Homo sapiens: one gene and its partners. The protein of the gene in region 1 interacts with the protein of each later gene in a pairwise test. Each region holds a gene or a part of one and is shown in the gene's direction. Other genes may lie near its edges.

Region 1 (3,500 bases):
TAGTTGTTCATATACCATAGAATTAAAGATCATTTTATCCCTTTCCTCCTTCTTCATCTTCAAATATGTGGCAAAATAAAAGTTGAGTCTTCATGCACTTTCCAACCAAAAGAAAAAGTTTCACAGCAAACCCCACCTTGGCAGGCTTTCACTGACTTGCAAAGGGAGGGAGGGTGTCACCAGAAAAAAACAGCATGGTCTTATTTGTCTATATGGAGCACCATCTGTGTCAGGATCTCACACTGGCTCACGGGCTACATCTGGCAAGCAGGCTGTTGATGTTTGGCCTGAACATGTTTGGAAATAACTAATGTAAAATCCATCTCTGCAGCTAAAAGTAGAGGAAGAGCCTGCCATTGGGTGAGCAGACTGCCTCCACATTCCCCAGCAGGGTCACCATCATATGGAACTCGTGGCTGTCCAATTGCATGGGGCATGCCCTCTCTGTCCCTTGCACCCTGTCTGCATCACTCAGCTAGATCACCTCCCTGGCCCTTGCAAGAACTTGCCTTAGCAATCCCACACCACTCGGCTCCAGGGTCCATGCTTTTAATTACCCTGCTCTCCTGCCTTCTACAAATTTGACAATTCCTATAGCCAAGAGATCTCCACTGATTTTAGTTAGAAAATGGGACTTTCAGATATCCAACAATACCTGGAGCTCCAGAATCTCCCAAGTAAAATCTGCAATCACAGTCCATTTATTTTATAACAACACTTATCTTGAATTGGGACAGAAAAAAAAAGGGGACTTCAATGAGAAAATAAGGAAATTAACAACTCAAAATAAGTTTCAAAATTCTCTGGAGATCCAGATGGCTAATACTGATCTGCAAAAAGCCTACACAAGCCCTGAACTTGAGTTTCAATTCTGGTATATCACAGATTCATGTGCCTAAGTGATTTTTTTCATAGATTGTTCCAGATCAATCACTGGGCCCAGCTTTTTAAAGTTGAGATGGAAAAACAACGTTGTTCTGCACAAAAACATGAGGATGATCAAAAGTAAATAATCTGACCCAAAAGTAATCTAAATTTTACCCAAAAGTAATCTAAATATTATATATTTAATTTAGACTCATCAGTCCACAGGAAATGTCTAATAACTATCTTAATCTTTTTTTTAACTTTGTGATTGAGACACCAGAGGCTGAAATGCCTGCAAAAACTTACAACTCACTTTACTATTTCTTCATCTAATTGTTAAATATCTATAGGCCCTGAAGTACTGCTTCTTTAAAATTGAGCTATTTGAACTGATGTACCATTGGGAATTCTGATATTGTCACACGTCTTCGGAAAATTGGCATTAATCTGATTATTATGTCACTTTAAAAGCTAGGTATTCTTGGTCAAAGGATACACAATTTCAGTTAAACAGGGGAAATAATTTCAAGATCTATTGTACAACATAGTGACTATAGTTAACAACTATGTATTATATACTTGAAAATTGCTAAGAGAATAGATTTTTAAATGTTCTCACCACACACACAAAAAAGCATATGATAAGGTAATAGATATGTTAATTGCCTTGATTTAGCCATTCCACAATGCATACATATACAAAAACATGTTATATAATATATGTACAATTTTTATTTGTCAATTAAGATTAATCAATTATTTTTTTAAAAAGCTCTGAGAAATCTACCCATAAATCACCAAGTGTAATTTTTAAAACCCATCACATTGAACTGCTTCATTTGAACAAACTCCAGATATAGCTACCATATTTTCTCCTCCTTTGAGATAGGATTAACCTCTTAAACTATCAGGGATAAATGAAGCTGCTTGATGCAGTGAAAGGTGCTCTGGACTGAGGAGCAAAAGACTTGGTCCTCCCTGCCCCCACTGCTGTGTCACCATGGGTGACTAACTCACCTCAGGGGTGGGGGGCCTTCATTTGCCTTATTTATAAAACAAGCAGTTGAGCAGGTTGGCTTTCTTCCATCTCTGTTTATTTCAAGGAAAAGGAATTTCAAATGTTGTGGCTTCTTCAGAGAGTGATGCTGATGTTCCTGATCATATTCTTTACCAAAGATAAACTCAAACTTAGTTTCATGAGGTTAAAAGCAGAGACTCTAAAGACAGATGGCCCTGGCCTGTGCTTAAATCTTAGATCTGCTGCTTACTAGCTGGGTGACCTGGGGCAAGCGGTTAAACTTCTCACTTCTCAGTTTTTGTCTGCAAAGTGGGGCTGATGCTAATATCTGACCCCATGAAGGTAAGGTGAGGGCTGTATACGGTAACACACATAAAGGACTTAGAATAGTAATTGGCACACAGTCAAGCACTCAACAAATGCCAGCTCTTATTCTACTGACTTGTCAGAAACCTATGAAACCAGATAACACAGGTGTCAAAGACCTGCTTCATGAATGGCTTTCTTACTGCAAACAACCCTCATGACCTAAGGGAGTAAACATATTCCTTTTGGAACAGTTTACATACATCTCACATGTTGGTTCAGCCCTTTCTTAAAGTTGCCAGATGCTTCTACTTTTTCTTATTTGTAAAATTCCGGAAGAATTGCTTTTATATTTGCCACTTGTACAAGGCTTACTAATAAAATTAAGAAAAACTCATGAGCATCAAAATGCTAGACATGTAATAATTAGTTTTATGAACAGCATAATTTATGTATATACAGAACATTACTCTTGCAGTCAGCTTATTAATGTTTTGAATAACATTAAGGGAATTAAGTAGTACATAATTAATTTACATTTATTAGGAAGTAATGTTGATAGCATCATAGATAAGCAAGCTATAAATTTAATCAAGGAAAGTAGAGAAATTTGATGCAATTTTCTGTATGAACTACTAAATTATATATGAAGACATCAAATAAGTTTGTTAGGATGGAAACAAAAGTTCATTATCCTATTTAAGAAGAATGTATCTGAAATAGAATGCTATTCACCCTTTCACTTCACCATTCCAAATGGAGTATTTGGAAATTACATATGAATTACATAACTCTTTTAGCCTCACTCCATGGATGATAAGCAAATAATAGCACTAAGATTACTGGGAGAAAACATGAAATAAATAAAGACCCAAGCCTAGGGCATCTCAACCTCTTCCCAAACCCTAACATTTTCTCCTTTAATGTAACTTCTCAAAATCAATTTCTTGAACTATACCCTGGAATCACATTAAGGAGACAGAGATCAGACCCTCACCGAAGATTCAAATTCGACTACTTTTTAAAGAAACAGTATGGTTCAAGTGAGGCCCAAGTTAAAGTGGAGGAGGCTGACAAAGCTCTTAGAAACCAATCACGTGATAACGTGGCTTCATTGGCCAGATTCAACAAAAGCTGAAGCTGGCTCTGAGCAAGGTAATAAGGCCATCACGTTAGGATGGCTGAATGATTAGACAAAATCCTCTATTTGGTTATGCTTTCTAGAAATAGTGTCCCAAACCGTATAACCCCAGGACATATTCTAAGTACAACTAAGCACAGAAAAATGAGGGGAAAGAAGAAAACTAAA
Region 2 (4,160 bases), on another chromosome or scaffold:
AGTCACATATCCCCTGCTTGTTCAATGGATCACGACCCTCTCACGGGGACCCCCTTAGAGTTGTGAGCCCTTAAAAGGGACAGGGATTGCTCACTCGGGGAGTCGGTTTTTGAGATGTGAGTCTTGCCGATGCTCCCAGCCGAATAAAACCCTTCCTTCAACTCGGTGTCTGAGGGGTTTTGTCTGTGGCTTGTCCTGCTACAACAGGACATGTATGAAGTCACGTGGAGCACAGAATAGACCATCAGAAAGTGAGAGAGAGGTCTGGGGGAGAGTTGGTGACATTTACTAGATAAAGACCCTAGGGGAAGCAGATTGGGGCAAGAAAGGGATGAGTTGGATTTGAGTAGAGGAGCCTTGGGCCATCTGTCCAGGGGCAGGATGTGAGGGGAGGTGAGAGCCCGGCTGCAGCTACAGGGAGACTGGCAATTGGGAGGCGTCCTGAGCAGCACATGGGAGAAGCTCCTAGAAGAGAGGACCCTCTGACTTTCTCAACCTTACCCTACTCTCCCCACTGCCTCCGCCATCTAGAAACTTCCAGAATTTCAGGCCCCAACAAGCCTACGATGGAGGAGGTTCTCCTGTATCCACTCCTTTTTCTTTCTTTCTTTCTTTTTTATTTTTGAGACAGAGTTTCGCTCTGTCGCCCAGGCTGGAGTGCGGTGAGGCAATCTCGGCTCACTGCAAACTCCGCCTCGCGCGTTCAAGCGATACTCCTGCCTCAGCCTCCCCAGTAGCTGGGATTACAGGTGCACGCCACCACACCTGGCTGTTTTTTTGTGTGTTTTTAGTGGAGACGGGGTTTCACCATGTTGGTGAGGCTGGTCTCGAACTTCTGACCTCAGTTGTTCCGCTGGCCTCGGCCTCCCAAACTGCTGATTACAAGCGTGAGCCACTGCGCCACGCCCACTCCATTGGTTTTTTTACACTCAACATTGGGAAGAGACTGCTGTTGCCCTGTTTCTGAGATAACAAGGACAAAACGAGAGAGTGATGAGCTGGAGCCCGATTATAAAACGGTCCACAAACGAAAACTAATGCCTGAGTTCAGTAAGGCCGGGAGGCCAGCTCACTCCCGCGAGGCGCTCTTTTGTTCGTGCAAACCGGGGCGGAGCTCTCTGCTGCACCGCCTCGCCGGGCCGGGGCGGAGCTCTCTGCTGCACCGCCTCGCCGGGCCGGGGACTAAACATGCGCGGCTAGTTTTCAAGGCCGGCCTCTGTATTAGTCACCGCGGCCATTTTGGATGAGGGTACGGAGAGAACGCGGACTGGAGATACCGGGGGCGTTGTCTTGGGCACGACTGCGTAGGGGCAAAGGTCGAGTACCCGCGCCGCCGCCATTTTTTATGAGGGCATATTCCATTTCTGATTATACACCCGCTGCCATCGGCACCGTTAGTTTCCACGCCCTCTAGTGCGCCCTCGGGGGCCCTAGTAACCTCCCTCCTTCCCTTGGGCCCGGGCCGGGGAGGCTTTCTCGGGCGCAGGAGGTTCCGCAGGCCCAGGCCAGGCCAGGGGAGGCAGCCGATCCGTCGTCGGGGTTGACAGTTACCATGGCGCCGCCTCTGGCCCCGCTCCCTCCCCGGGACCCAAACGGGGCCGGACCCGAGTGGAGGGAGCCGGGGGCTGTGAGCTTCGCGGACGTGGCCGTGTACTTCTGCCGGGAGGAGTGGGGCTGCTTGCGGCCAGCGCAGAGGGCCCTGTACCGGGACGTGATGCGGGAGACCTACGGCCACCTGAGCGCTCTCGGTGAGAGCCCCACCTGCTCGCCTGAGCCCTGCGCCCCCACAGGCCCTGCCGCGCCTCTGGGAGCTGCGCGTGAAGTTGGGGGCCCCGGGGCCGGGCAGGTGGCCTCCCCGCAGCGTGGGGTTTGCGTTCTTCTTCCCTAGGAATCGGAGGCAACAAGCCAGCTCTCATCTCCTGGGTGGAGGAGGAGGCCGAACTGTGGGGTCCGGCTGCCCAGGATCCGGAGGTGGCGAAATGTCAGACACAAACGGACCCAGGTGGAGTATCGGGTGCTCAGTCCCATGGGGACTTCTCTGTTCCTGTCCCATCCCGGTACCCTCTGCCACCTCCAGCTACCTGCTTAGCAGTTTCCTCTCTGAACTGCCTTCTCAACTGCGACGACGAGGCTGAGCCCCTGCGTGGCTCCCAGATGCAGCCTAGAAAGGAGCTGTGATGGGGGCTCTGGCCCTGCCATACCCGCCTCTGAGTCCTCACCTCTGCGTGGTCACTACACTCTGGGGGCTTTTTTTGGTGTTTTTGTTTTAGAGACAGGGTCTCGCTTTGTTGTCTAGGCTGAGTGCAGTGGCGGCATCATAGCTCACTGTAGCCTGGAACTCCCGGGCTTAAGCAGTCCTTCCACCTGGGCCTCCAGAGTAGCTAAGACTGTACAGGTGCTCGCCACGAAGCCTGGGTAATTTTTTTTTTTAGACAGAGTTTTACTCCGTTGCCCAGGCTGGAGTGCAGTGGTGCCATCTCAGTTCACTGCAACCTCCCACTCCCAGGTTCAAGTAATTCTCCTGTATCAACCTCCCAAGTAGCTGGGATTACAGGCGCCCGCCACCAAGCCTGCTTAATTTTTTTTTTTTTTTTTGAGACAGAGTCTTCCTCTGTCGCGCAGGCTGGAGTGCAGTGGCGCCATCTCGGCTCAGTGCAAGCTCCGCCTCCCTGGTTGACGCCATTCTCCCGCCTCAGCCTCCCCAGTAGCTGGGACTACAGGCGCCCGCCACCACGCCCGGCTAATTTTGTTTTTGTGTTTTTAGTAGAGATGGGGTTTCACCATGTTAGCCAGGCTGGTCTCGAACTTCTGACTTTGTGATCTGCCCGCCTCGGCCTCCCAAAGTGCTGGGATTACAGGCGTGAGCCACCGCGCCCAGCCAATTTTTTGTATTTTTAGTAGAGACAGGGTTTCACTATGTCGCCCAGGCTGGTCTTTAACTCCTGGAGCTAAGCGATTCGCCTGCTTCGGCCTTCCAAAGTGACCCACTGCGTCTGGCCTAATTGTTTTAAATTGTTATGTAATATATATATTTTATAGAGGGGGTCTTGGCTCTCGGTGTGTTGCCCAGGCTGGTCCTGAAATCCTAGGCTGATCCTCCTTCTCTACCTCCCAAAGCGCTGGGATTACCGCCTTGAGCCCCCACGCCCAGTCTCTTAAACTCTGTTGACTCTACCTCCACCTCAGGACCCACCCCTGCCGTTCACCTGCAGGCTGGTTCCTTTCTCCCCGTCCGCCCCCCTTTTTTTCTTTCATTTCTTGCCCTCAGCCTTTGCAGAGTATCCAGCCCCACTGAACTTGGCCATGCCCTCCTGGTTCTGCCTTTCTTGGTGCTGTTCCTGCTGCCTGGAACATCCTCAGGTGTCCGTTCCTCCTTCTGGATCAGGCCCAGATGTTCATGTCATCTCTGCCCTTCCCCCACCGTGACATTTCCCCAGCCCCGAGGCGGAATGGGCTGTTCTCTCCCTCCCGGCTCTGTCTGGCTCTGCAGCCGAGGAACAGGTGTCACTCCTCCATCTCCCAGGAGCAGCCGGGGATCCAGCAGGCCTGTCCCTGTCCACGCGGGCTGTGGGATTCAAGGACCAGGATGAGCCGAGCCTGAACTCTCCCCTCTTTATCTCTCAGCAGATTCCAGAAACAAGAAAAAGGAAAGACAAAGGGAAGGGACGGGAGCCCTGGAGAAGCCCGACCCTGTGGCCGCCGGGTCTCCTGGGCTGAAGTCTCCCCAAGCCCCCTCGGCCGGGCCCCCTTATGGTTGGGAGCAGCTGTCCAAGGCACCGCACCGGGGACGCCCCTCCCTCTGTGCCCACCCCCCTGTCCCCCGAGCTGACCAGCGTCATGGCTGCTACGTGTGCGGGAAGAGCTTTGCCTGGCGCTCCACACTGGTGGAGCACGTCTACAGTCACACTGGCGAGAAGCCCTTCCACTGCACTGACTGCGGCAAGGGCTTCGGCCACGCTTCCTCCCTGAGCAAACACCGGGCCATCCATCGTGGGGAGCGGCCCCACCGCTGTCTGGAGTGTGGCCGGGCCTTCACGCAGCGCTCGGCGCTGACTTCGCACCTGCGCGTCCACACCGGCGAGAAACCCTATGGCTGCGCCGACTGTGGCCGCCGCTTCAGCCAGAGCTCTGCCCTCTACCAGCACCGGCGCGTGCACAGC
Region 3 (4,119 bases), on another chromosome or scaffold:
AGACCAGCCTGGGCAACATGATGAAACCTCATCTCTACAAAAAAATACAAAAATTATCTTGGCGTGGTGGCGCACGTCTGTAGTCCCAGATGCTCTGAAGGCTGAGGAAAGAGGAGGATGGCTTGAACCCGGGAGGCAGAGCAGAGGTAGCAGTGAGCCGAGACTGCGCCACTGCACTCCAGCCTGGGTGACAGAGCCAGACTCTGTCTCAAAAAAAAAAAAAAAAAAAAGTTAATTAGACGGGTGTGGTGGTGCGCGCCTGTAGTCCTAGATAATTTCGAGGCTAAGGGGGAAGATCTCTTGAGCCCAGGTGTTCGAGGCTGCAGTGAGCTATGATTGGGCCACTGCACTCCTACTTGGGCAACAGATAGAGGCCTTGTCTTAAAAAAAAAATTTTAAAAAGGCCGGGCACGGTGGCTCACGCCTGTAATCCCAGCACTTTGGGAGGCCGAGGCAGGCGGATCACCAGGTCAGGAGATCGAGACCATCCTGGTTAACACGGGGAAACCCCGTCTCTACTTAAAATACAAAAAATTAGCCGGGTGTGGTGGTGGGTGCCTGTAGTCCCAGCTACTTGGGAGGCTGAGGCAGAAGAATGGCATGAACCCGGGAGTCGGAGCTTGCAGTGAGCCAAGATCGTGCCACCGCACTCCAGCCTGAGCGACAGTGCGAGACTCCGTCTCAAAAAAAAAAAAAAAAAAAAAAAAAAGACTTGAGAGAAAGTGAATTTCCATCCAGGAAGATTAAGGATCCCCTTCTGAGTACTTTAAAAAGGTTATCTATTTGTGCTGAGGGAAGAGGTAGAATATTAGGGAACCAATAAGATAACTTCTCTTTTGGAGAGGTTTCCAAAGTCCTTCTGTCCTCAGAAATTCTCATGTTCCTCCCCAGGGACAGAAAAATCCTCCTTGCTGTCTAATCTCCATCTCTCCTATTGCAATGCTAGCCACTCCCTCTGCCCTCATGGAGCCCAGCCTTTCCCCTGGCCTCAGACAAAATCTCTTTAGAGCCCTGTAATTTGGAGTGTTGAGAGAGATTCCATTTCAACCTTTTCACCATCCGTTCTCTGCCCCTCACCCTATTCTCTTCTTCTTGGGGATGTCAATTCCTGTTCTGAGCCCGCCCCCCACCCAGGCCCTTTTCCGGTGGTATGTGCCAGCCGGTCCTGCATCCCACATCCCCAGCTGTTGACATTTCATTGCCATTACCCACAGAATAAAGAAAGGGGCCCTGTTATTCAACAATAGGGGAAAAGACAGAGACAATGGGAAATTGTGCTTCCGATGGGGTGGGGACTGAGAAGGAAAGGACAGACAGACAGACAGACAGGGGGTTGTACAGAAGAGGTCCGGTTTCTTGAAGCAGCTGGAAGTCCTGGATAGTTCCCACCTGAAAGTCTGTTTGCAAAGGCAATGCGCACTCAGGCACCAGAGGGCAGAGGTGAGTACTCTGTTGTGGGGAGAGGGGAGATGGGGATGCTGCTTAGATGAGGCGCATATGGAAAGGGAGGCAGCTCGAGCTTGGCAGTTATGGATCTTTGAGCCACATTTAGAGTTCATCCCCATCCCCATCAGTCCAACACCTTCATATCCACCGATCAATCTACACCTCTCTGGTTCAAAGGCATCGAGAAAAAATGAAGCACCTCACTTTCTGCACTCTTCCAGGTCATCATTCCTGGGTTGCTCCCTTTATTCCACTCCCCTTCATGGGTTCCCAGCCCTCATCCCAACCCCAGCATCTTCCCCTGGTCCCGGAATAGTGATTTCCACAGATATAGTCACAGGGCTGGACACAGGTCTCTTAACATGGCTTAGTGGACTGATGGGGGTGGGGGTCGTTCTTGGCACCTTGGCTTCTTCTTTGAGCACAGGACAGAAGCTTTTCCTCAAAGGTGCAAAAGGAGCAACTGTGTTGAACAGGGGCTCAAGTTCCAGGGTTTTAAGGTGCTTGGAACTCCCAGGAGCCTGGCAAACCTTCATCCAGAACCTCTTCCTCAAGCAAGACAAAAAGCTGCTAAGCACTGCTCCCTCCGTCTCTGTGAAGAGACCAGCTTCTAACAGGTAGGCAATGGGCTGCTGACTACTCTCATTTTCTGTAAGAGGTATGAAGAGCATGTGTGTGCACTGTTTTGAAATGCAGAAATATAGATTAGTGATTAAGCGCTTGAGCCTCACTGTCAGATCTGTATTCAAATCCCAGCAAACCCTTCCTCTTACTAGCTGTGTGACCTCATTTCCTAAAATAGGTGCACCTTGGTTTCAGCATGTGTACAGTAGGATTTATAATTGTTTCTGCCTCAGGATTGCTGGGAGGAGTAAATATAAAAATATACATGTAAAGTGCTTAGAGCAGTGTCAGGCACATTCAATTTTAAACGTGTTCATTTGAGCTATCATTATTGTTGGTCTCAGTCAATCTCAGTCCTCACGATCATTCTTACTTATCAAGTTCTCCTATAAAGAAGTGGTTCTCTTGCTCATGTTCGCATCCCAGATACTTTCACCTTTAACCACTGAGAAGTTTTCTATGCATAACCTCCGTTTCTCCTACTGCAAACTGGTCTTTGGTCCTCATTTGCAGAAAGATGGAGCTCCATTCTTTAGATTTCTGGCAACTTCTCAGGGTGCTTCCTCCATCTCCCCATTCCCCATCCCATCTTCCCATGAATCCTTAATGTAAGTTCATTAAACCATACACACTTATTTAGCACCTACTATGTACCAGAAACTATGCTGGGAACTGGAGATAACAGCTAACACATAGACAGCACTTATTACATTCCAGACACTATTTCAAGCATTTTGCGTATATCAATTTATTTATTCCTCACAACTACTCAGTGAGGTAGGTGTGCTATTATTCCCCACATTTCACTGATGAGGACACTGAGGCAGAGAGAGGTTAAGGAACTTGTGCATGATAATTAACTTATGCATAGTCATGCAATTAGGAAATAGAGTAGCCAGATTTGGAAAACGAATGCAGTGAAGTCAAGAAGTCTTCATTTTTTTTTTTTTTTTTTTTGAGACAAGGTCTTGCTCTATCCCCTAGGCTGGAGTGCAGTGGCACAATCTTGGCTCACTGCAGCCTCCACCTCCTGGTTTCAAGCGATTCTCCTGCCTCAGCCTCCCGAGTAGCTGGAATTACAGGTGCATGCCACCACGCCCAGCTGAATTTCGTATTTTTAGTAGAGACAGGGTTTCACCATGATGGCCAGGCTGGTCTTGAACTCCTAATCTCAAGTAATCCACCCGCCTCAGCCTTCCAGTGTTGGGATTACAGGTGTGACCCACTGTGCCTGGCCCAGTCCAATTTTTTTTTTTAAGGTCAGAGGGATAAGAATGATACAATAGGTGCTGGAGGCGATGGCTCACACCTGTAATCTCAGCATTTTGGGAGGCCAAGGAGCGTGGATCACCTGAGGTCCGGAGTTCTCAAGACCAGCCTGGCCAACATGGTGAAACCCTGTTTCTACTACAAATACAAAAATTAGCCCGGAGTGGTGGTGGGTGCCTGTAGTCCCAGCTACTCAGGAGAATCGCTTGAACCCGGGAGGTGGAGGTTGCAGTGAGCTGAGATGGTGCCATTGCACTCCAGCCTGGGCAACAAGAGTGAAACTCCCTCTCAGAAAAAAGAAAAAAAAAAAAAAAAAGAATGTTACAATAAAGGAGGAGCTGGGTGCAGTGGCTCAAACTTGGGAGGCTGAAGTGGGAGCATTGCTTGAGCCCAGGAATTGGGCAACCTAGTAAGACCCTGTATCTGATTAAAAAATTTTTTTTACCGGGAGGTGGAGCTTGCAGTGATCCAAGATCGTGCCACTGTGCTCCAGCCTGGGCAACAGAGCGAGACTCCATCTAGAAAAAAAAAACACAAAACAAATTTAAAGGGGGGAATAACTACAGTACTGAAATAGATAATTGCATTTGAAGTAGTTTTTAAAAATAACTTTATAATTTTATATTTTTTAACTTCATAATTTCTGTATCTATATGTGGATACATATTATGTTCAAATTCACACTGTTAAGTTTAGGTGCTAATAAAAGTACTTGTAAGACAAAAAAAGTCCTGGCTGGGTGTGGTGGCTCATGCTTGTAATCCCAGCATTCTGGGAGGC
Region 4 (3,500 bases), on another chromosome or scaffold:
TATGCAACCACATGGATGAACCTTGAGGACATTATGCTAAGTGAAGTAAGCCAGTCACAGACATAAACTGCATATTTCTATTTATATGAGGAATCTAAAATAGTCACTTCCACTCATATGAGCTATCTCAAATAGATTGAAAGAGTGGAATACGGGTTGCTAGGGGCTGGGAGGGAGGAGGAAATGGGCAGTTACTAATCAGTGGGCATAAAGTTTCAATTGCGCAAGATGAATAAACTGGAGGTCTGTACAACATTGTACCTAGAGTCAACAATAGTGTACACTTAAAAATGTGTTAAGTGGGTAGATCTCATGTTCTTATTACAATAAATGTTAAAAGGTTTCATTGAACATGTGACATTAGAGTTGGACCTTTAAGGGGTGGGTGGTAGGATGAGTATAACCAGAGATGAAATGATTAAGCATCCAACTAGGAGGGTGTTAATAAAGGCAAGTCAGGCTGGGTGCGGTGGCTCACGCCTGTAATCCCAGCACTTTGGGAGGCTGATCGGGCAGATCACTTGAGGTCGGGAGTTTGAGACCAGCCTGACCAACATGGGGAAACCCCATCTCTACTAAAAATTCAAAATTAGCCAGGCGTGGTGGTACATGCCTGTAATCCCAGCAGCTCGGGAGGTTGAGACAGGAGAATCTCTTGAATCTGGGAGGCAGAGGTTGTGAGCCAAGATCACTGTATTGCACTCCAGCCTGGGCAACAAGAGTGAAACTCCATCTCAAAATAAATAAATAAAGGCAAGTCAGCTATTAGAAAGTGCAGGGTTTGTTTGAGAAATAGTATATAGTGTGTGTGTGATGTCGTTTAAAATTTGGAAAGGTAAATAGGAAAATAATGTGAAGGGCCTTGAAATAAAGTCAGAGAGGTACTAAATTTTGTTTGCTAAGTTGTGAAAAGCTATTGAAGATTTTGGAGCTGAGTTGGCACAGCTGTAATCTCCCTGGCAAGAAATGTAGCATGTCTGACATGTAATAGCCAATTCATATATTTGAGTGATAGAATCTTACTGTTCTCCAAGAGCCTCAGGAAATTTAAAGTAGTTTAAGATTTTCCAGCTAGGTAGTGCTGAAATTTGGCTGTAATATTATTGTATTGCTAATGAGAATTTTTCCAGAAAATAGTTTTCAAAAATAAATACTCAACAAGCTCCAAGCCCTGGGCTTTTCTTTCTTTACTAAACATTGTAAGATTTGAGTCAATATGATTACATGCTCTAATGTACATCTTCTTTACAGGTGTTAGTAAAATGGCCTTTCGCCATTTAATTGAGTTCACATATACAGCAAAATTAATGATACAAGGAGAAGAAGAAGCCAATGATGTATGGAAAGCAGCAGAGTTTCTACAAATGCTAGAAGCTATCAAAGCCCTTGAAGTCAGGTACTTAATTTCTTTAATGGGGTTCAGATAGTCATATTCAGTCATGTTCATTCTGTTAGTGAAGAACTTACAGTATGTGTCATGCCATGAAGAACAGAGTTCTTCAGAAGAATTAAGAATATTTAAGGATCTATTAAAAAATTTTCTGGATACTGATTGTTCTTTCACTTGACTTTGATTTTCTGATCATGTGTTAAAACTGCTAATATTAAAGTAGCATCTTTGGTATGTAATAAAATAAATCTAGACAGCTTTTTAAGGATCTGGATCCTTATAAACTGTTTTGTTGGATTCAAGTTATTGTTTATACCAAGCCTTATCCTACAAAGGGTTTGGCTTACAAAGATTAACATAATACTGTTTAAAAATAAGGAAATAGATGGAAATAAATAAATTGGTTTAATAAGGAGATAATCATTTCAAGTTAGAAGTATGATAGCCAAAAATGCATACCATAAGTCTATAGTAGATGTGCTAAATCTAGCTCTAAGTGCACCTAGTTCAAAGAAAAAGACTATTCAGTTACATTATTCCTTGTTAGAAGATGAGAACAAATCAATTGCTGAGGAGCCATTCCTATTCCTAGTATTAAAATTTCTCCTGAGAAGTATTAAGAAAACATTAGGCCAGGCCCAGTGGATTACGCCTGTAATCCCAGCACTTTGGAAGGCTGAGGTGGATGGATAGCTTATGCCCAGGAGTTCACAAACAGCCTGGGCAACATGGTGAAACCCTGTCTCTACAAAAAATACAAAAATTAGCTGGGCATGGTAGTGCATGCCTGTGGTCCCAGCTACTCAGGAGCTGAGGTGGGAGGGGAGGATCACCTGAGCCTGGCAAGGTTGTGGCTGCAGCGAGCTGTGATCACGCCACTGACTGCATACCAGCTAGGGGGAACAAAGTGAGACCCTGTTTTTTTAAAAAAGAGAAAACGTGAAAGGATATAATGAACAAAGACCTCAACATCCTTACTTGATGAATAATGGCAGTGTAACATAGTTACTAAGAATAAGAGCTCAGGAGTCAGTTTCCCTGGGTTAACATCCTGCTTCTACCACTGTGTGGCCTTAATTAAGTTACTTAACCCTCCTGTCAGCTGTGTCCTCCTCTGTCAAATGAGAGTAATAACGGTACTTTCTACATGGGATTTGATTGTGAGGGTTGAATGAATTAATGCATGCAAAGTGTTTAGCATGGTGTCTGGCTAAATGACTCTGAGTACTCTAAGTATGAACTATTATCTCCTGGTACTGTTTTTTATGTTTCTCAATACAGATCATTGGCCTGATGCCAAAACAGTTTGGTAAAATCAGTTTCACATAGCGGCACAATGATTTAATCTTAACTCACTGTTGTGGTTTAGTTAAAAGATAAAATTTATTTCTCTGAGGACTCTACTGGAATTTTATTTTATTTTATTTTTTTGAGATGGAGTCTTGCTCTGTCTCCCAGACTGGAGTGCAGTGGCACAATCTCGGCTCACTGCAACCTCCATCTCCTGGGTTCAAGCAATTCTCCCTGTCTCAGCCTCCTGAGTAGCTGGGATTACAGGTGCCTGCCACCATGCCCAGCAAATTTTCGTATTTTTAGTAGAGGTGGGGATTTCGCCATGTTGCCCAGGCTGGTCTCAAACTCCCAACCTTAAGTGATCCGCCTGTCTCAGCCTCCCAAAGTGCTGGGATTACAGGTGTGAGCCACTGTGACTGGCCGAATAAAAGTTTTTTTTTAAGAGATAAAAATTTAGATAACTCTAAGAATACTGAACTGTACTCGTCCATAAATATCATCTCTTAGTTTGACAGTTCAAGATTAAACCTTTCTGACAAGAGCTTGATACGTATATATATTCTTTGATGCTTAGCACCTGGCATATAGCAGGTGTACAGGAAACATTTGTGAATAGATAGATGGATACATGCTAATTAAAACCAGATCAGTACTCTTGCAGAGAGACCTGAGCATGGATGTCAAAATAGAGATGCATTCTGAGGATATAAACCTGATCAGGCCATCTCTTCTCAAAAAGATTAAAGGAAATATATATGGATGGGGCGATGTCAGATTGTGGTTAAATATTGAATGAGAGCCTTCCAAAAGAATGTTC
Region 5 (3,500 bases), on another chromosome or scaffold:
CTTGTTTCTTGTTGCTATTTGTTGAATAGATTTTTTTCCATTCATATTTTCTGATTAGGTGTTACTGGTATATAAGAAAGCTATCAGTTTGGTTGTTTTTTTGTTTTGTTTTGTTTTGTTTTGTTTTGTTTGTTTGTTTATTTGCTTTTTTTCTTTTGAGATGGAGTCTCACTCTGTTGCCCAGGCTGGAGTGCAATGGCGCGATCTTGGCTCACTGCAAACTCCACCTCCCAGGTTCAAGCAATTCTCATGCCTCAGCCTTGGGAGGAGCTGGAATTACAGGCACGTGCCACCACACCCAGCTAATTTTTGTATTTTTAGAAGAGACGGGGTTTCACCATGTCACCCAGGCTGGTCTTGAACTCCTGACTGTTGGGATCAGGCCCCCCCAAAATCTGGCTATAAACTGGCCCCAAAACCGGCCATAAACAAAATCTCTGTAGCACCGTGAAATGTTCATGATGGCCATAATGCCCACGCTGGAAGGTTGTGGTTGTGGGTTTACCGGAATGAGGGCAAGGAACACCTGGCCGGCCCAGGGTGGAAAACCCCTTAAAGGCATTCTTAAGCCACAAACAATAGCATGAGCGATCTGTGCCTTAAGGACATGCTCCTGCTACAGTTAACTAGCCCAACCTATTCCTTTAATTCGGCCCATCCCTTCGTTTCCCATAAGGGATACTTTTAGTTAAATTAATATCTATAGAAACAATGCTAATGACTGGCTTGCTGTTAATAAATACGTGGGTAAATCTCTGTTCAGGGCTCTCAGCTCTGAAGGCTGTGAGACCCCTGATTTCCCACTTCACACCTCTATATTTCTGTGTGTGTGTCTTTAATTCCTCTAGCGCCGCTGGGTTAGGGTCTCCCCGACCGAGCTGGTCTCAGCACCTGACCTCAGGTGATCCACCCACCTTGGCCTCCCAAAGTGCTGGGATTACAGGCATGAGCCACTGTGCCCGACCAGAAAGCTATCAATTTGGATACATATTTCTGATCATTAATTCTGGAAAGGTTGCAGGTTAGGGTTAGTTTAGGTTAGTTAGGGTTAGTTTAGATTAGGTCAAGTTTAGCAGTGTTTCGCCTTGTGCTCACAAGTGGCTCAGAAGCTGCCTCTCTTGAAAGTGCTTTCACCCTAGCGGGTAGGGGCTCCTTGGTGATGAAGAGGGAGCAGTGCTTGTTAGCAGAAAGTCCAGGGAGTGAGGATGATGAGGAGCAGGAGAAGGCAGTGGCCCTGGAGGAGATCCTGGAAGCTCATCCCAGATCAGGAGACTCCAAATGTGCCTGTCCCAGTGTGTGACCATGTGCAGGGTCCTCTGGAATGACAGGCACACTGCTTTGTCACATCAAGACAGTCAGGAATTCCAAAAAGAGTGATAGGAATGTCTCACTGCGATGTGGCTTTTGATCACCTAAAGAAAACTGGAAAGCCAGTTGCTGCTAATAACGTTGATCTATTGTTTTTGTTTTGGATTATTCCTTAGGGAAATTTTCAAGATTGAAATTCCTGAGTTTGAAAAATTAGCTCCTTATGCTGCCACCTTTGTAACCAGTGGGTGGGAGGGATCATTGCTCAGCCAGTGCCCTGAGTGGGTGTTCTTTATATTGCCCATTTGTTAGCTGTTGGCATGGCCTCAAGAGGGGGCTCCTCAAACTCCACTTCCAGTATTCTGTGGCGGTGATCTCCAGCCTGTCCCAGCCCCTGGCCCTGGAGCCTGGCATCTATAGAGGACTCGTCATTAGCCTGTCTTAATTTTTTAAAACTGTCCACATCATCCTCCTTCCCTGCCTGAACTGTGTTCTCATGGAGCAAAGCTTGGAGTTGGACGTCAGAATCCCGTGAAGTGTGGATGGAGTGTGTTGTTAAAAGCCAGTTTCTGGCACCCCCGATAGCTCTTACATTTTCCTGTCTTGAGTATGCAAGGTTTAGGTTGAGGTCCATGGTGTTTGCCTGGCCTGGTATCCTGTTACAGGCTCGTTCCAGGAAACTGAAACCTTTATCTGCCATAGTGTAAGTAAGGAAAAAATTTAAACTAGTTAATACCACTTTTAAAATGTATTTTGTTCATATTTTTTTTTAATTTTTATTTATTTATTTATTTATTTTGAGACAGGGATTCATTCTGTTGCCCAGGGTGGAGTGTAGTGGTGCAGTTACAGCTTACTGCAGCCTTGACCTCCTGGGCTCAAGCAATCTTCCCATCTCAGCCTCCAGAGTACCTAGGTCTACAAACCAGCTAATTTTTTAAATTTTTTTATAGAGACGGGGTCTCACTATATTGTCCAGGGTGTTCTTGAACTCCTGAACTCAAGCAATTCTCCCACCTTGGCCTCCCAAAGTACTGGGATTATAGGTGTGAGTCACCATGCCCAGCCATTTTTGTTCATTTATTACCAGAATACAATCAGACTTTGTGATAGGATTTTTTTTTTTTTTTTTTTTTTGAGACAGAGTCTTGCTCTGTTATGCAGGCTGGAGTGCAGTGGCACAATCTTGGCTCACTGCAACCTCTGTCTCCCAGGTTCAAGCTATTTTCTTGCCTCAGCCTCCTGAGTAGCTGGGATTACAGGTGCCTGCCACCATGCCTGACTAACTTTTTGTATTTTTAGTAGAGACGGGGTTTCACTATGTTGGCCAGGCTGGTCTCGAACTCCTGACCTTTTGATCCGCCCGCCTCGGCCTCCCAAAGTGCTGGGATTACAGGTATGAGCCACTGCGCCTGGCCGATTTTTTTTTTAATTAGCAATATGTGATGGTCATCTTTCAATAGAGACCTGATACTGCATTTTGTGTGATGCTTTTCTAAGACTCACCCCAGGTGGCAGTCTTTCCCTTTCACTTCTCCTTGCCACACACTTGTTGACAGCCTGGTATTGTCCTTTGGAGTATTTCCTCTGTGTGTTAATCAAATAGATAATAACACCTTATCCAGCAGCATCCTCCTCTGAGCCAAGCCTGTTCTTAGCGCTCTCCTCTCACCAACCACATGATCTCCAGGCCTTCAGAGGAGTGTGTCATCTGGATTTATAGGTGGGGCCTCAATGCAGCTGGCCCAAGTGAGGCAGGTGAACCAGTCCCAGGTCCTTGTGACACACATACCCTTCATGGGCTCGGGGTCATAGTTTACAAAATGAGATTTTCCCCTGCATGCTGGCCCCATGCTGCATTTTCACTCACCCATCTGGTGACCTGACACAACATACATCTTTCTCTTTAGCAGGTGTGTAACTTGTATGTGGAAGGACCAACGTAGCATTTGCCTCAGCAACATCCTTGAATCTGCACCCTCACCCACATCCATTCTTATCAGGTACCCACTATCCAAGGGCCAGTCTGATTTGCCTAAATACTGCTAGGTCGCCTTCTTAAGAGTATGAGAAACTCCACTTTCCCATGCCTGCCAGTTTAAAGTGTTGACTCCGTACTTGGCTATTACAGATGGCATAAAGTGTGAGCTCATTCCTCTTCATTCATTTATTCAACAAACAGGCCGGGTGTG
Region 6 (4,076 bases), on another chromosome or scaffold:
GAAACCCCATCTCTACTAAAAATACAAATTAGCCGGGCGTGGTGGCACACGCCTGTAGTCCCAGCTACTAGGAAAGCTGATGCAGGAGAATCACTTGAACCCAGGAGGCGGAGGTTGCAGTGAGCCAAGATCACGCCACTGATTCCAGCCCGGGTGACAGAGTGAGACTCCATCTCAAAAAAAAAAAAAAAAAAAAAAAAAAAGACTCAACTATGGCTATGGCTCTGTGTGTGTGTGTGTGTTTGTGTTCACATGGGTTATCATGTGTACTGTCATTTCAATAAAGATATTATAATCTTATTGAATTGAAAATATTTGCAATACCTAGCAAAATTCTTTACAGCTTTTTTTTTTCTCAATACAATCTGATGGTAAAGAATAGAGCATAAATGTGATGTTTAAGGCTCTTTTCATTCCATAGCCAGGGTATGAATGTCTAGGTAAAACTCAAAAATTGCATCAACAGTTTGAGGGTGAGTCAAAACATAAAATTTATCATGGCTATAGAAACAGAAAAAAAAAAATACATTGCCAATAAAATAGTTATTTCCCCTGGTAACAGAAATAAATTTCCTAATAAAAATAGAAGTTAAAAAGAAAATGAAAATTATACCTAAGCACTTTAAACATTTCACTGAACATAATTCCATATCCACAAACACATACACGTGGTCTTACATAAATTGAATCTCACCTATACTATGAGTTTGAAATCAGTTTTTCTCTTATTCTTTAAGAAAAAAAAAGGTCAGGGATATCTTTTCATGTCAATAAATAGGAAAACTACGTAATCATTTTTAGGGCTGCAGACTGTCCCGTCACAGAAGCTCCATAATTTATTTAAGCAATCCCCTATTGTAAGACACTAATGCTGTTTATAATTTTTTACTCTACAACAAACATTGATAAACATCCTGTACCAATCTGTTTACCAATTTATCCAATTCTCTCTTTAAAATAAATGTCTACAACTAGAGGAGCTGGATAAATGAGTATACAGAGAATGTATATTAAACTCTTGCCTTGCACAGAAAATTTACCTCTAACCCTTTTGAAAGCAATTTGCCAGAATGCATTAAGGTCCCTAGATGGTAGGTTGGTGGCGGGGTAGTGGTCTGCTGAGCTGTGGAGGGCGGTGGGGCTGAGGGTGGGGTGGAGAGGGCGGTGCCCCTGCTCTGAGGCAGGGACTACTGGGTGACAGAGACAAAGGGGTGTGTGATGGGGCAGGTCACAATGGGTAGGGGAGGATAAAAGTGGTCCTGCGGGGTGGTTTAGCAGCAGTGGATGGTTCAGGTTGGGAAGAAGAGCAGTGGGATTGCCAGTTAAGGTTGTGGAATCAAAGAGCAAAGGCTGTTGTGAAGTGGAATATCAGGCTCAAATGGAGGTCCCTCCCGAATGAGCACTGACACCTGTGTGCCCGGACATCCACGAGGGCCCCAACACCTGTGCTCCTGACAGCTCCATGCACTAAGCAGGGCACAGTCTGGATCCAGGGGACTGACTGTCTCTGGCATTGAGCGGTTGGTAATCAATACCCCACCCTCCCTGTTCTCAGTCACTTGGGGACAAAAAAGAAAGCCTGCAGAACACGACTGCTGGCCCACCTGCCAGAGTAGCCAAGGAAACAGGATGCCCGCTAAAGCATGTTAAGGAAGGTGTGGAGCAGCTGCTGGGAACTGTCTTGATTTAAAGGAAGACATGGAGGACTGCTGTATGCTACCGTATTACACGGCCCAAAGCAGCCCCGCAATGGGCATGTTTAACACCTCCATGGGGAAGCTGCAGCGGCAACTGTACAAAGGCGAGTATACTATATTCAGGTATGCACCCATGTTTGAGAGCGACTTTATCCAGATCAGCAAAAGAGGAGAAGTGATTGACGTGCACAACCGTGCCCGAATGGTAACAATGGGCATCGTTCGCACCAGCCCCTGCCTCACACTACCTGATGTCATGCTGCTGGCCCGACCAGCTGCTGTCTGTGACAATGCCAGGTGTGGTCCTGCCACCCAGAAAAGAGAAAGTCCGCCTGCAGAGATCTTAGAACTAACCAGGCTGCTTCCCTTGATGTTTGTGAAAATAACCATCCACAACAGCGTAAAAAAACAGCTCCACCTGAAGCTTGCCACGGGCCGCTCTTTTTATCTTCAGCTGTGTCCTCCATCGGATGCAAGTGAAGACCTTTTTGTTCACTGGGAAAACCTTGTTTACATCCTGAGACCACCAGTGGAGGCTTACAGTGATACCAGGGCTATCCTAGCTGGGAACACATTGGACTCATCTGTGTTGGAGGAAGTGCAGAGGAGCCCAGTGGTGAGTCTATGCAGAGACTAGATGGGGCCTGGATGCTTTGGGGGAGAGCAGGTACAGGTCCTGTAAAGCCTTTGGTGCTGCAGCTCACCTGGGAAATGCATTGCATTTGGAAGGTCTGAAGGCCAAATGAGCTTCCATTTGGAGGCCATGGTACATTGAGGAGGTTCCTAGTGCTTCTCCAGGGTTCTCCAAGCCTGAATTTCAGAGATTTCTTAGCTGTCAGCAACTCTTCATTTTATATCCACAGCTGTTCATTTTATATCAATGTTGTAATGCTGTCCAAAGCATCCTGACCAGTCTATTCTGAAACACATACTATGACCTAGGCAGGCTGATATGTTGTAGGACGTGTCTCCCTGCAATTGCCACTTATATACATTGGTGGCAACACAACATGTTTGTGTACTTGTGCAATAATTTCTTTTTGTTGTTTACCTATAGGAAGAGAAAGGAGATCTTGCTGGTCTCACTGTCTTTGCTTATTTGTTCTCTCCCTAGGGATATGCCATGAAGTTTTGTGAAGAGAAGGAGCAATTCAGAATCAGTAGACTTCACATGAATGCTGAAATGTTTGGGTCCACCTATTGTGATTATACAATAGAGATATGAATCCAACATACCTCCCACATATACTACGTTCAAGAGTTCACACACCCCTGCAGTCATAAAACCTATAGTGCCTGATGAAGGGGCAGGGTAGCAACAGCAGTAGTGATGACAGTAAGCACCACCACAGGTACCATGGATGTGGCTGCAACCAAGTCTGCAGACTCAGGAGAGAAACACAGCACTGGCAAAAGCAGCCTTCAGAGGTCCAGGAGGAAGTATAGCCAGCATGGCTATTAGTGGGTGCTTCCATGTCTTAATCTTGTTATAGCAAGGGCTGCATGCACATTCTTGTCCTAAAAGGGTACTTCAAGCATATCAGTAAGTGCTACTGGCCTCTCCCTAGAGAGCAGTATGAATGTGGTGGCTACAGGAGCAGAGAGATACTGAGAAGGCTGTTGCATTGACAGTATCTCTCTGCTACTCAAAGGCTGACTCTCTGCTACTCAGCATTGGGAGTCAGTTATCTCAACTCTGCAGGATGAGGCCACATGCGTGAATGGGATGGAAGCCAGAGGGTCTCTACCTAGCTGGATTGACTCTGCAGTAATAACCTCAAAGCCCAGTACTACACATGGTGCAGAGGTGGACATCTCACCTAAGACTGTGGAGGGGAACAATGTGATTCACCATAATAAAATCCATCAACTCAAATTATCTGCTCTAATAACATATGCTCTATTGACAGGAAGGGTAGCAATAAAACTAATGGCAATTTATGATCAGGCTCTGAAAACTATCTTTAACTTTCCCTTAACTTTATATTTTTTAAATAAATTAATAGATGACAGAATAAAATGTTGAAGATTACTCTCAGATATGATCCTACATTAGGAGAATTATTCTAAAACTGTTTTCCAAAATATAAAATGAGAACCCAGGAATACACACACACAGACTCTCTCTCTCTCTCCTCTCTCTCTCCAGGTTTGAATCACAGCATTGCCACACATTAACTGTGAGTTTCAGTAGATTGTTTCTTTAAATGGTCACCTTGAGACCATACATGTATAATATCTGGAACATAGTAGGCACTGTGTAAATGGTAGTGTTGAGAAACAAATTCTGAGTTTAATCATACTTTCCAGAAAGGGCTTAATTTTCCCAGTCTCTTCATTCTTGATTTCCTTTCTTAAATCTTAATTAACTGCTTTGCA
Region 7 (2,610 bases), on another chromosome or scaffold:
CAAGTTTATTTCAGATACATGAAAGAACTCACACTGGAGAGAAACCCTATGAATGTCAGGAATGTGCAAAAGCTTTCATTTCTCTTCCAAGTTTTCAAAGACACATGATTAGGCACACTGGAGATGGACCTTATAAATGTCAGGAATGTGGAAAAGCCTTTGACCGCCCCAGTTTATTTCGAATACATGAAAGAACTCATACTGGAGAGAAACCCCATGAATGTAAACAGTGTGGGAAGGCCTTCATTTCTTTCACAAATTTTCAAAGTCATATGATTAGGCACACTGGGGATGGACCTTATAAATGTAAAGTATGTGGGAGAGCCTTTATTTTTCCCAGTTATGTTCGAAAGCATGAAAGAACTCATACTGGGGAGAAACCCTATGAATGTAATAAATGTGGTAAAACCTTCAGTTCTTCCAGTAATGTTCGAACACATGAAAGGACTCACACTGGAGAGAAGCCCTATGAATGTAAGGAATGCGGGAAAGCCTTCATTTCTCTCCCAAGTGTCCGAAGACACATGATAAAGCACACTGGAGATGGACCTTATAAATGTCAGGTATGTGGTAGAGCCTTTGACTGTCCCAGTTCATTTCAAATACACGAAAGAACTCACACTGGAGAGAAACCCTATGAATGTCAGGTATGTGGGAAAGCCTTCATTTCTCTTAAAAGGATTAGAAAACATATGATACTGCACACTGGAGATGGACCTTATAAATGTCAGGTATGTGGTAAAGCCTTTGACTGTCCTAGTTCTGTCCGAACACATGAAAGAACTCATACTGGAGAAAAACCCTATGAATGTAAAGAATGTGGGAAAGCATTCAATTATGCCAGTTCCATTAGAATACATGAAAGAACTCATACCGGAGAAAAACCCTATGAATGTAAGCAATGTGGAAAAACGTTCAGTTATTCCAGTTCCTTTCAAAGACATGAAAGAGCTCATAATGGAGATAAACCTTACGTAAAGAATGTGGGAAAGCTTTCATTTATCACACAACCTTCGAATACCTGTGAAAATGAATAGTGGAGGACAGGTCTACAAGTATCTACATATCTAAAGAATATGGAAAGTCTTCAGTTTGCTTTCTGGGTTTCAGACTTGTTTGGGAGCTCACCCCTTTCTCCTGTTTCTCACTTTTGGAATAGGAATCTCTATCCTGTGCCTGTCTCATATTTTGGAAATACATGACTAGTTTGGTTTTCACCGGTTCGGAGCTGAAGAAGAATTTTGCCTCAGCATGAATTGAGTCTCATCCATATCTGAGTGATGTGATATTGAGATGACACTTTGGAGTTTGAGTTTAAACATTAGGCTTCATGCTGGAATTAACTGAGACTTTTGAGGCCTTTGGGATGAGATGAATATATTTTACATGTGATGACATGGATTTTGGGGGCCAGAGGTGTAATGTTTTGGCTGAGTGTATGCCACCTCAGATTCATATGTTGAAACCTTACCCCCGTGCCCCCCCTCTCCCCCACAATGTGATGGTATTTGGAGGCCCTGTCTCTGGTGGTTTTTAGGATTGGAGGACATCATGAAGATGGAGGCCTTGTAATTGGGATTAGTTTCCTGATAGGAATCCCTAGAGAGCTAGCTTTGCCCTTCACCATGAGAGGGTGCAGTGAGAAGATAGCTATCTTTGAACCGGGAAGCAGGCCCTTACCAGACATGGACTATGCCAGTGCCTTGATATTGGACTTCCCAGCCTCCCAAACCATGAGAAATAAATGTTTGTTGATTAATTAAGCTTTCCAATTTATGGTATTTTGTTTTAGCAACCCAAGCTAAGACACAATCCAATTTTAAAATGGAGGAAAGGACTTGAATAGACATTTCTCCAAAGAAGATACCCAGATGGCCAATAAGCACGTAACAATGCTCGACATCTTTAGTCATTAGGGAAATACAAATCAAACTCAAGACATACATAGCATCTCATTAGGATTAGTAGTATCAAAGATGGAAAACAAGAAATACTGTCAAGGATGTGGAATGTTGGAGAACATTGTGCACTATCACTGGGAATGTACAGTGGTATAAGCCTGCTGAAAACAGTATGGCAGATCCCCAGATTAAAATATAGAAATAACATATGATCAGCATTTCCATTTCTGGGAAAATAAAAAGATTGAAAGCAGGGCCGGGCGTGGTGGATCACGCTTGTAATCCCAGCACTTTGGGAGGCCGAAGCAGGCGGATCACAAGGTCAGGAGATTGAGACCATCCTGGCTAACATGATGAAACCCCGTCTCTACTAAAAAAAAATTAGCCGGGCGTGGTGGCAGGCGCCTGTAGTCCCAACTGCTCGGGAGGCTGAGGCAGGAGAATGGCATGAACCCGGGAGGCAGAGCTTGCAGTGAGCTGAGGTCGCGCCACTGCACTCCAGCCTGGGTGAGAGAGCAAGACTCCGTCTCAAAAAACAAAACAAAACAAAAAAGATTGAAAGCAAAGTCTCAAATAGGTTTTGTACACCTGTGTACATAGCATCATTCACAATAGGTAAACTCTGGAAACTACTCAGGTTTTCATCAACAGATGAATAAACAAAAGGAAGTTTATACATACAAGAGAATATTACTGAGTCTTACAAAGT

What was found.
Region 2: the proteins of FHL5 (region 1) and ZNF764 interact in binary tests that used the Homo sapiens proteins (3 or more experiments, as listed by UniProt).
Region 3: the proteins of FHL5 (region 1) and HAPLN2 interact in binary tests that used the Homo sapiens proteins (3 or more experiments, as listed by UniProt).
Region 4: the proteins of FHL5 (region 1) and ZNF131 interact in binary tests that used the Homo sapiens proteins (3 or more experiments, as listed by UniProt).
Region 5: the proteins of FHL5 (region 1) and ZNF250 interact in binary tests that used the Homo sapiens proteins (3 or more experiments, as listed by UniProt).
Region 6: the proteins of FHL5 (region 1) and GARIN6 interact in binary tests that used the Homo sapiens proteins (3 or more experiments, as listed by UniProt).
Region 7: the proteins of FHL5 (region 1) and ZNF564 interact in binary tests that used the Homo sapiens proteins (3 or more experiments, as listed by UniProt).

Annotation. Positions count from the first base shown.
Region 1 is NC_000006.12:96,611,628-96,615,127, forward strand, and holds part of FHL5 (four and a half LIM domains protein 5), read left to right. Parts: intron 1-3,500. UniProt on the Homo sapiens protein: May be involved in the regulation of spermatogenesis. Stimulates CREM transcriptional activity in a phosphorylation-independent manner.
Region 2 is NC_000016.10:30,555,575-30,559,734, reverse strand, and holds the start of ZNF764 (zinc finger protein 764), read left to right. Parts: upstream 1-1,360; 5' UTR 1,361-1,552; coding exon 1,553-1,748; intron 1,749-1,888; coding exon 1,889-2,002; intron 2,003-3,624; coding exon of another isoform or gene 3,625-3,627; coding exon 3,628-4,160. UniProt on the Homo sapiens protein: Zinc finger protein that functions as a cofactor for steroid hormone receptors, such as NR3C1/GR.
Region 3 is NC_000001.11:156,618,096-156,622,214, forward strand, and holds the start of HAPLN2 (hyaluronan and proteoglycan link protein 2 precursor), read left to right. Parts: upstream 1-1,319; 5' UTR 1,320-1,412; coding exon of another isoform or gene 1,413-1,440; intron 1,441-1,873; coding exon of another isoform or gene 1,874-2,063; intron 2,064-3,784; exon of another isoform or gene 3,785-3,833; intron 3,834-4,119. UniProt on the Homo sapiens protein: Mediates a firm binding of versican V2 to hyaluronic acid. May play a pivotal role in the formation of the hyaluronan-associated matrix in the central nervous system (CNS) which facilitates neuronal conduction and general structural stabilization.
Region 4 is NC_000005.10:43,137,914-43,141,413, forward strand, and holds part of ZNF131 (zinc finger protein 131), read left to right. Parts: intron 1-1,251; coding exon 1,252-1,396; intron 1,397-3,500. UniProt on the Homo sapiens protein: Plays a role during development and organogenesis as well as in the function of the adult central nervous system. May be involved in transcriptional regulation as a repressor of ESR1/ER-alpha signaling.
Region 5 is NC_000008.11:144,894,954-144,898,453, reverse strand, and holds part of ZNF250 (zinc finger protein 250), read left to right. Parts: intron 1-3,221; exon of another isoform or gene 3,222-3,311; intron 3,312-3,500. UniProt on the Homo sapiens protein: May be involved in transcriptional regulation.
Region 6 is NC_000012.12:99,646,477-99,650,552, forward strand, and holds GARIN6 (Golgi-associated RAB2 interactor protein 6), read left to right. Parts: upstream 1-1,276; 5' UTR 1,277-1,698; coding exon 1,699-2,313; intron 2,314-2,811; coding exon 2,812-2,922; 3' UTR 2,923-3,638; downstream 3,639-4,076.
Region 7 is NC_000019.10:12,524,873-12,527,482, reverse strand, and holds the end of ZNF564 (zinc finger protein 564), read left to right. Parts: coding exon 1-1,037; 3' UTR 1,038-2,110; downstream 2,111-2,610.